2 linked regions of the Homo sapiens genome follow. The protein of the gene in region 2 purifies or fractionates together with the protein of the main gene of each other region. This does not show direct contact. Each region holds a gene or a part of one and is shown on either strand. Other genes may lie near its edges.

The links.
Region 1: the proteins of MYH9 (region 2) and ENKUR purify together in Homo sapiens (affinity purification with western blotting; 4 studies listed by BioGRID, with this or other methods). This does not show direct contact.

The regions. Positions count from the first base shown.
Region 1 is NC_000010.11:24,992,074-24,995,729, forward strand, and holds part of ENKUR (enkurin), read right to left. Parts: coding exon 3,573-3,656; intron 1-3,572. UniProt on the Homo sapiens protein: Adapter that functions to localize a calcium-sensitive signal transduction machinery in sperm to a calcium-permeable ion channel.
Region 2 is NC_000022.11:36,377,902-36,381,557, forward strand, and holds part of MYH9 (myosin-9), read right to left. Parts: intron 1-3,656. UniProt on the Homo sapiens protein: Cellular myosin that appears to play a role in cytokinesis, cell shape, and specialized functions such as secretion and capping. Required for cortical actin clearance prior to oocyte exocytosis. Promotes cell motility in conjunction with S100A4.

The DNA.
Region 1 (3,656 bases), on a different chromosome or scaffold from region 2:
TCTTTCAGCTTAGTAAATGCGTTTGATTTCACCATCTATAGAAACAGAATTACTATGTATTCCTTCTTCAAAAGATGTTTGAGAATGTACTTGGTGCTAGGAATACTAGTGAATAAAAAAGGCAAAGTTTCCGTCTTCAGGGAATTTGCATTCTATGGTGACAGAGACTCACCAAAAATAGAGAATGAAATAATATGTATGTGTTCTGAAGTAAAATAAAGAAGGATAGTGGGGGAAAAGAAAATAATAGGGGCTATTTTAGATAAATAAGGAGGTCGGGGAGGAACTCTCCGAAGAAGCAGCAGTTGGGAGGTATGGTAGTCATTAAAATTCTGACAAATATTCTGTTCTCCTTCTAGACACTTGGTAGGACAACACTTTCCTGTGTTGTCCTCATAAAGTAAGATGTAGCCATATGCCCTGAATTGCTCAGTGTCAGTGGAGGTGACCTCTGCCACTTCTCGATAGGAGTCTTAAGAATTAGTGGATGACTTGCTGTGTCTTTTCCTGTCTGGTCTAGTGACAAGCAATGTTTAGATTTTTCTGGGTCCTGGAAGAAGGACAAGAAGCAGAGCCTGTAACAACCCTCAAAGGGCACGTGGCAAAAGCAAACAATAACACTTTGTTGCTTTAAGTTACTGAAATTTGGGGATTGTTTGTCATCACAGTGTAACTTAACCCATCCTGACTGAACAAGGGATAGAAATCCTAGATATAAATGTGTTCTGGAAGCTGCAGAGGACAATACAAATAGACTCTGGGAGGCCAGTATTCTGGTCAGCTGGTGCAGTGAGTGAGACAGGCCAATCCACTTCAGGAAACACTGAAGGAAACACCTCATTACAGCTTAGTACAATAATGGAGCTTCATCATGATGATTCTGCAGGATCACAGAAAGATTAAATTATATTTGGCATACTCTGTTTAAGAAAGAGAATGACTGGGCGCAGTGGCTCAAGCCTGTAACCCCAGCACTTTGGGACAGCTAGGCAGGAGAACTGCTTGAGCCCAAAAGTTCAAGACCAGCCTGGGCAACATAGTGAGACTCCATCTCTAAAAAAAATTAAATTAAGTGTTTTTAAAAAGAAAGGGAATGGTGTGATACAGTTCAGAAAAAAAACTCACAAATGAGCAAAAGCTTCAATGATCTGAAATATTCCTATGGGCTGAATCACCGGAGGCTAATGCATACTGTTAATAAAATTGCATATATTATACTATTCACTCTTTGTTCTTTTATTAGGTGTCACATTTTGTGTCAAGTGCTCAATATACTTTATATAATTTAATCCTCACTACAACCCTGTGATAAATCCAATGGATTGTTGGAAATCACAGTTACTAAGTGGCAGAGTTAGACTTTGAAAGAATGTCTTTACTGGTATTGCTAAATACCTCATGTGATCATCTATCCTTGCTTGTTTTCAGAAATTGTTTCTCATGGTATGAATGGCATATAATTCACTTGGAGCTGAAATGGGAGTTCACTCATTTTATAAAAATATGACATTGACTTTAAAAGAATTTATTTACTATCTCACCTACCAATGATAGATCTTTAAAACTTAACTCTGATAAGGGAAAAGTAAATTGAGTAAGTCTTTCATGAGCACTGATTGCTTAGTCAGCAACACCAAAAGGGCATTAGGTGCACAGTGCTTTCATGGTTTGGTAAACTCTGGTATTTTTCTGTTTCCATGATGGATACTCCAAATTTCCTGTTGAAGGTAGAAAATGCATTCAAGTGGACAGCTTAGAGAGCAGCCAGAAGGGAGGGGCAGAGTGTGTGACAGGTGGTGGCATGACCAGTAAAGACTTTTCATATGATCATGGAGAAATAATGGACTGGAAGTGGCTTTAAGAGCCATGAGAGTGAGTTTTCCACTTTTCCCTATCCTGTGGGACAACGACTATAAAACAGTTTCCAGGGGCCACAGAAGGAGGAAGTACCTGGAGAAGCCTGAAGTAACTTTATTGGCTTATCCTGGGAACTCCTAGATTCCTGAGAAGACAGTGTCCTCTGAAAACAGCCTTGAGGGTCCTGTTTTGATTTTCCACTGGCATTGGATTTATCATGGTAGATCACTGGACTCTTCAATTTTAGGTCCCTGTACATCACTATTGCAATTTCTTTTCTTTTTTTCTTTATCTCTCTTCCTTTTTCTTTATCTCTCTCTTCCTTTTTCCTTCCTTCCTTTCCTTTCTCCCTCCCTTCCTTCATTTCTTCTTGATGCAACTTATTATTCTTTAGAATTCTGCACTCTTTTTTTTTTTTTTTGACACCGAGTCTCGCTCTGTCACCCAGGCTGGAGTGCAGTGACGCGACCTTGGCTCACTGCAACCCCCGCCTCCTGGGATCAAGCGATTCTCGTGCCTTAGCCACCCGAGTAGCTGGGATTACAGGCACACACCACCACGCCTGGCTAATTTTTGTATTTTTAGTAGAGATGGGGTGTCACCATGTTGGCCAAGATGGACTTGAACTCCTGACCTCAAGCAATCCTCCTGGCCTTCTAAAGTGCTGGGATTACAGTTGTGAGCCACTGTGCCCAGCCTGCATTCATATTTTGTGTGTTTCAAGCACTTTTAAGCTTTATAAGTGCGCAAAATAAAGTAGCATTAAATAAGATTTTTTGTAAGCTTTTTTATTTTAAAGATCTGTATTTGGCTGGGTGCAGTGGCTTATGTCTGCAATCCCAGCACTTTGGGAGGCTGAGGTGGGTGGATCACTTGAGGTCAGGAGTCAAGACCAGCCTGGCCAACATGGTGAAACCCCCTGTCTACTAAATATACAAAAAAATAACCAGGCCTGGTGATGCATGCCTGTAATTCCAGCTACTTGGGAGGCTGAGTGAGGAGAATCACTCGAGCCGGAAGTTGGAAGTTGCAGTGAGCTGAGATTGCACCATTGTACTCCAGCCTGGGAAACAGCATGAGAATATGTCTCAAAAAAAATCTATATTTAAACTATAATGTTCACCAATGAAATTACACACCTTTTCAGATACAAATGAAGGACCCAAAAGGACTAGATTATTGTACAGTACTTTCAAGTCTTTACCCAAAACCAAAACCAAATAAATATATTCATGTTAAAATAGGAATGTGAATTATTTATACTACACTGATGAGATGGATGGCTCTAAAGCTGCATTCTGCTTCATTTTTCTTATTCAGCTGCCAAGTTACTGCAATTAATGACTAAATCTTAAGACCATCTGACAGCTTATTCCTTCTAGATTTACAGTAATGACTGCTTTTAGTGACATTTCCAACTAACCAAAAATATCTTTCAGAGAATGTTTATTAAAATTGTTAAATATGTTAATAATCAAAATTAAGGAAAACAATAACTTTTATCTACTGAACTATATGGAATTGTTTACTATGGGTTCTTTGTAACTTCATCCCATTACATTTGGACCAAACACAGATTGCAGAAGAATGAGAATCAGCAAAGTAGACAATGTGTCCAATGAGAGCACTAATAATGATAACATAGATGATCATCATGAACACCATATTTAAATTATTTGAATTTCAGCCCTCTTATTAATATACCACAAGGCTACCTTTTTATTGATGTACTTTGGAACTAGTCCTGAAGGCTCAAGATCATGCTTGTCTCCAGTTCTTTTATCAACATAAATTGGTTT
Region 2 (3,656 bases):
CTCCGTCTCAAAAAAACAAAAAAAAACTTGAACGTGTATTTCCTACCACCTGAGGAGAGATGATGTTATTGTTACTATGAAGAAAAGGAGAAGCTGGACGAGGTGGCTCACACCTGTAATCCTAGCACTTTGGGAGGCCAAGGCAGGTAGATTGCTTGAGCTCAGGAGTTTGAGACAAGCCTGGGCAACATGGCAAAACCCTGTCTCTACAAAAAAAAAAAAAAATTAGCCAGGCCTGGTGGTGCACACCTGTGATCCCAGCTACTTAGGAGGCTGAGGTGGGAAGAATGCTTGAGACGGAGGCCGAGGCTGTAGTGAGTTGCTATCGCGCCACCACATTCCAGCCTGGGCAACAGAGCAAGACGCTGTCTCATAAAAAAAGAAGAGAGATGAAGGGGAGGAAGAGGAGGAACAGACCACTTCACATCCATTTATAATGCTAAGAAAGAGGCTTCTCCACGGTGCAGATGGGAAAACTAAGGCGAGCAGCAGGAGAAAAGGCGGGGGGTCTGCTCCTAGCTCTGCCTGATCCCAAAACTTTATTTTGTTCCTTCTCCCGTGCATTTTGTGTTGAAAATATAACAAATTATCACCGGAGACATTAAGTGACCTAAAGTTACTAGAAATCAGGGCTGGCTGAGGACAGTGGGCAGCAGTGTGGCTTTCTGAATGGCCCACCCTGCTGCCTGGCACCACCCCATGTGAAATATTGATTTTTCGAGCTGTGGGAACTTTCAGCCCAAGTGGTCACGTCCAGCTGGAAGAAGTTCAGAGAAACCCAAAACACTTCCCACCCCATTCCTTAACCCTAGTGCCCCCCAACAAAAAACAACAAAAAAGACGAAGGGAGTAGAAGAATAGACTCTTAAGGAAAGATTAAAGGAGCTCAGTATGTGTTGCTTGGCTAAACAGGGCATAAACATCAAAAAAAAAGAGAGTCACCATTTAGAAAACACGCTTAAATGAAGCCTCCTGATTTGGAAAGGCACTGGGTATGAGCGAAACCAGGGGCCAAGGTTTTCTACCGACTCACAGAATGAGCTTAAGCAAATCGCTTTTTCTCTAATTAGGAAAAAAAAAAAGAAATGTTATTTTAATTATTCCCAACATCTCTTCCAGCCAGGCATTCTATAATTCTAAATCCAGTAGGGAGGGTTTTCATTGTTGTTGCTGATTTTTCTTTTAAGCAGGGGATGATTTCAAATTAGAGTTAAAATGCAAGAAGAAAGGCTCTTCTTTCTAAGGCCCACGTCCTTTTGGTGAGTGGCAACCTACTCAGAGATTAGCTTCGAGCTCCCCCAACACATTAAAAATTGTACAGAGAGGCCAGGCGTGGTGGCTCACGCCTGTAATCCCAGCACTTCGGGAGGCCGAGGCGGGTGGATCATGAGGTCAGGAGATGGAGACCATCCTGGCTAACACGGTGAAACCCCGTCTCTACTGAAAATACAAAAAAAATTAGCCGGGCGTGGTGGCGGGTGCCTGTAGTCCCAGCTACTTGGGAGGCTGAGGCAGGAGAATGGCGTGAACCCGGGAGGTGGAGCGTGCAGTGAGCTGAGATCGCGCCACTGCACTCCAGCCTGGGTGACAGAGCGAGACTCCGTCTCAGAAAAATAAAAAGTTGTACAGAAAGACATCATCTTGGCCTAAGAAGGCAAGAGAGGGACCTCCCTGAGAAGCCCCTTTTCTCCTCTGGGACATACCATAAGGATGGTAAGGGCCTCTGAGAAGTACCAAGGAAGTGACTCGAGGGTGGGGAAGATCAGCTACCTGTAACCCCACTACAGGCCTTAGCCCAACCTGCACGGCAGGAAGCCACACCCTTCCGGAAGGCCCTGCAAAGGCTCCTTCCAGCCACAGCAGGAGGGTCCTGGGCTAGAGATGCAGACAGCCACTGAGGGACTCCCAGCTGCTCCAGCGCTTGGCGGGCTAGCTAAGGGCCTTCTCTGGGGACACCTGCCCGGGTGCTGAATCATCTCAGGCTCGAGAAGCTAATCGTGGGAATGGGAACCTGAGTAATTCCAACAGAAGCCTAGGTTACTTTTTAAAGAGACATGCATCAGAGTGGGCAGCTCCCCTCCTGCCTCCCAAATATTTGGTGCCATCTAAGCACAAGGGACAGGGAGCTGGGTACAGATACAGGCCGCCCGCCCATGCAGTGGCGGTCCCATTTTAGAGCCAGTCTCATAGTGTGTGCTCATGTGTGACTCACACCATTCCCCCAGGAGGCCCGGAGGCTGCCTTGCAGGACCTCAGGACCCTGATGGGGTCTTCCAGACTTCACTCAGGAAAGGAGTCAATCGGGCACAACAGCAGCGCCGGCAGCTCCTCCCAGGGCCCACACCATCCAAGGCGAAAGACAGCCATCCTTGAGAAGGGGGGTAGGGCCCTCCCATTCAAAACACCCCTCTGATCACATCTTCTCAAGAATTTGGGCTTTTCCAGTGTTGTTATACATAAAAACCACAGGCCAGATGTCTTAGGGGAAACTGGGGACAGAGTGGGAAGGGGCATAATAGTGGATGCAATGACCCCAAGTTAAAAAAGAAGGCCAGGTGGCCGGGTGCGGTGGCTCACGCCTGTAATCCCACCACTTCGGGAGGCCAAGCCAGGTGGATCACCTGAGGTCAGGAGTTCGAGACCAGCCTGGCCAACATGGTGAAACCCTGCCTCTACTAAAAATACAAAAATTAGCCAGGCGTGGTGACAGGTGCCTATAATCCCAGCTACTCGGGAGGCTGAGGCAGGAGAATCGCTTGAACCTGGGAGGTGGAGGTTGCAGTGAGCTAAGATCACGCCACTGCACTCCAGCCTGGGCAACAGAGTGAGACTCTGTCTCCAAAAAAAGAAAAGAAAAGAAAAGAAAAGAAAGAAAGCCAGGTATGTGAGGGCCTGGGTTGGGCTTCAGGTTGGGGTGGGCTCCCCAGGACAGGACAGCTTATGATTTGGAGCCAAGCGAATTATGGAAACCTTGCAAGAGGGTATCCCAAAACGCTTTCCAGACACACATGCAGGCTTTCTCTTCTCATACAGCAAAGAAAAATCAATCATCTACCATTTCCCAGAATATGAGGAAGTAGATCAGAAAGGACTTCTGTTTAAGGGGTTACTCTAGTGATGTGACATCATGGGAAGAAAACAGGACCCAAAGGTTTCAAGCACAAAGACCCTTCCCTCTTACCTTGTAAAAGGTAGGCATTCAATATGCAATATGGAACCTAAAGCAATGCACTTTAAAGTTGAGACCTACAGATTAGCCAGCTGGACCCCTTATTTTTATAGTTAAGAAAAATAAGAAATAGCTGAATTTTTTATTCTTTAGGGACAATATGGCCGGGCACACTGGCTCATGCCTGTAATCCCAGCACTTTGGGAAGAAGAAGCAGGTGGATCACTTGAAGTCAGGAGATGGGGACCAACCTGGGCAACATGGTGAAACCCCGTCTCTACTAAAAATACAAAAAAATTAGCTGGGCATAGTGGCGCACACCTGTAATCCCAGCTACTCAGGAGGCTGAGGCAGGAGAATCACATGAACCCAGGAGGTGGAGGTTGCAGTGAGCCGAGATCGATCATGCCACTCCAGCCTGGGCAACAGAGCGAGACTCCATCTCAAAAAAAAAAAAAAAAGTATTGAGTGAAATGTACTGCTCACT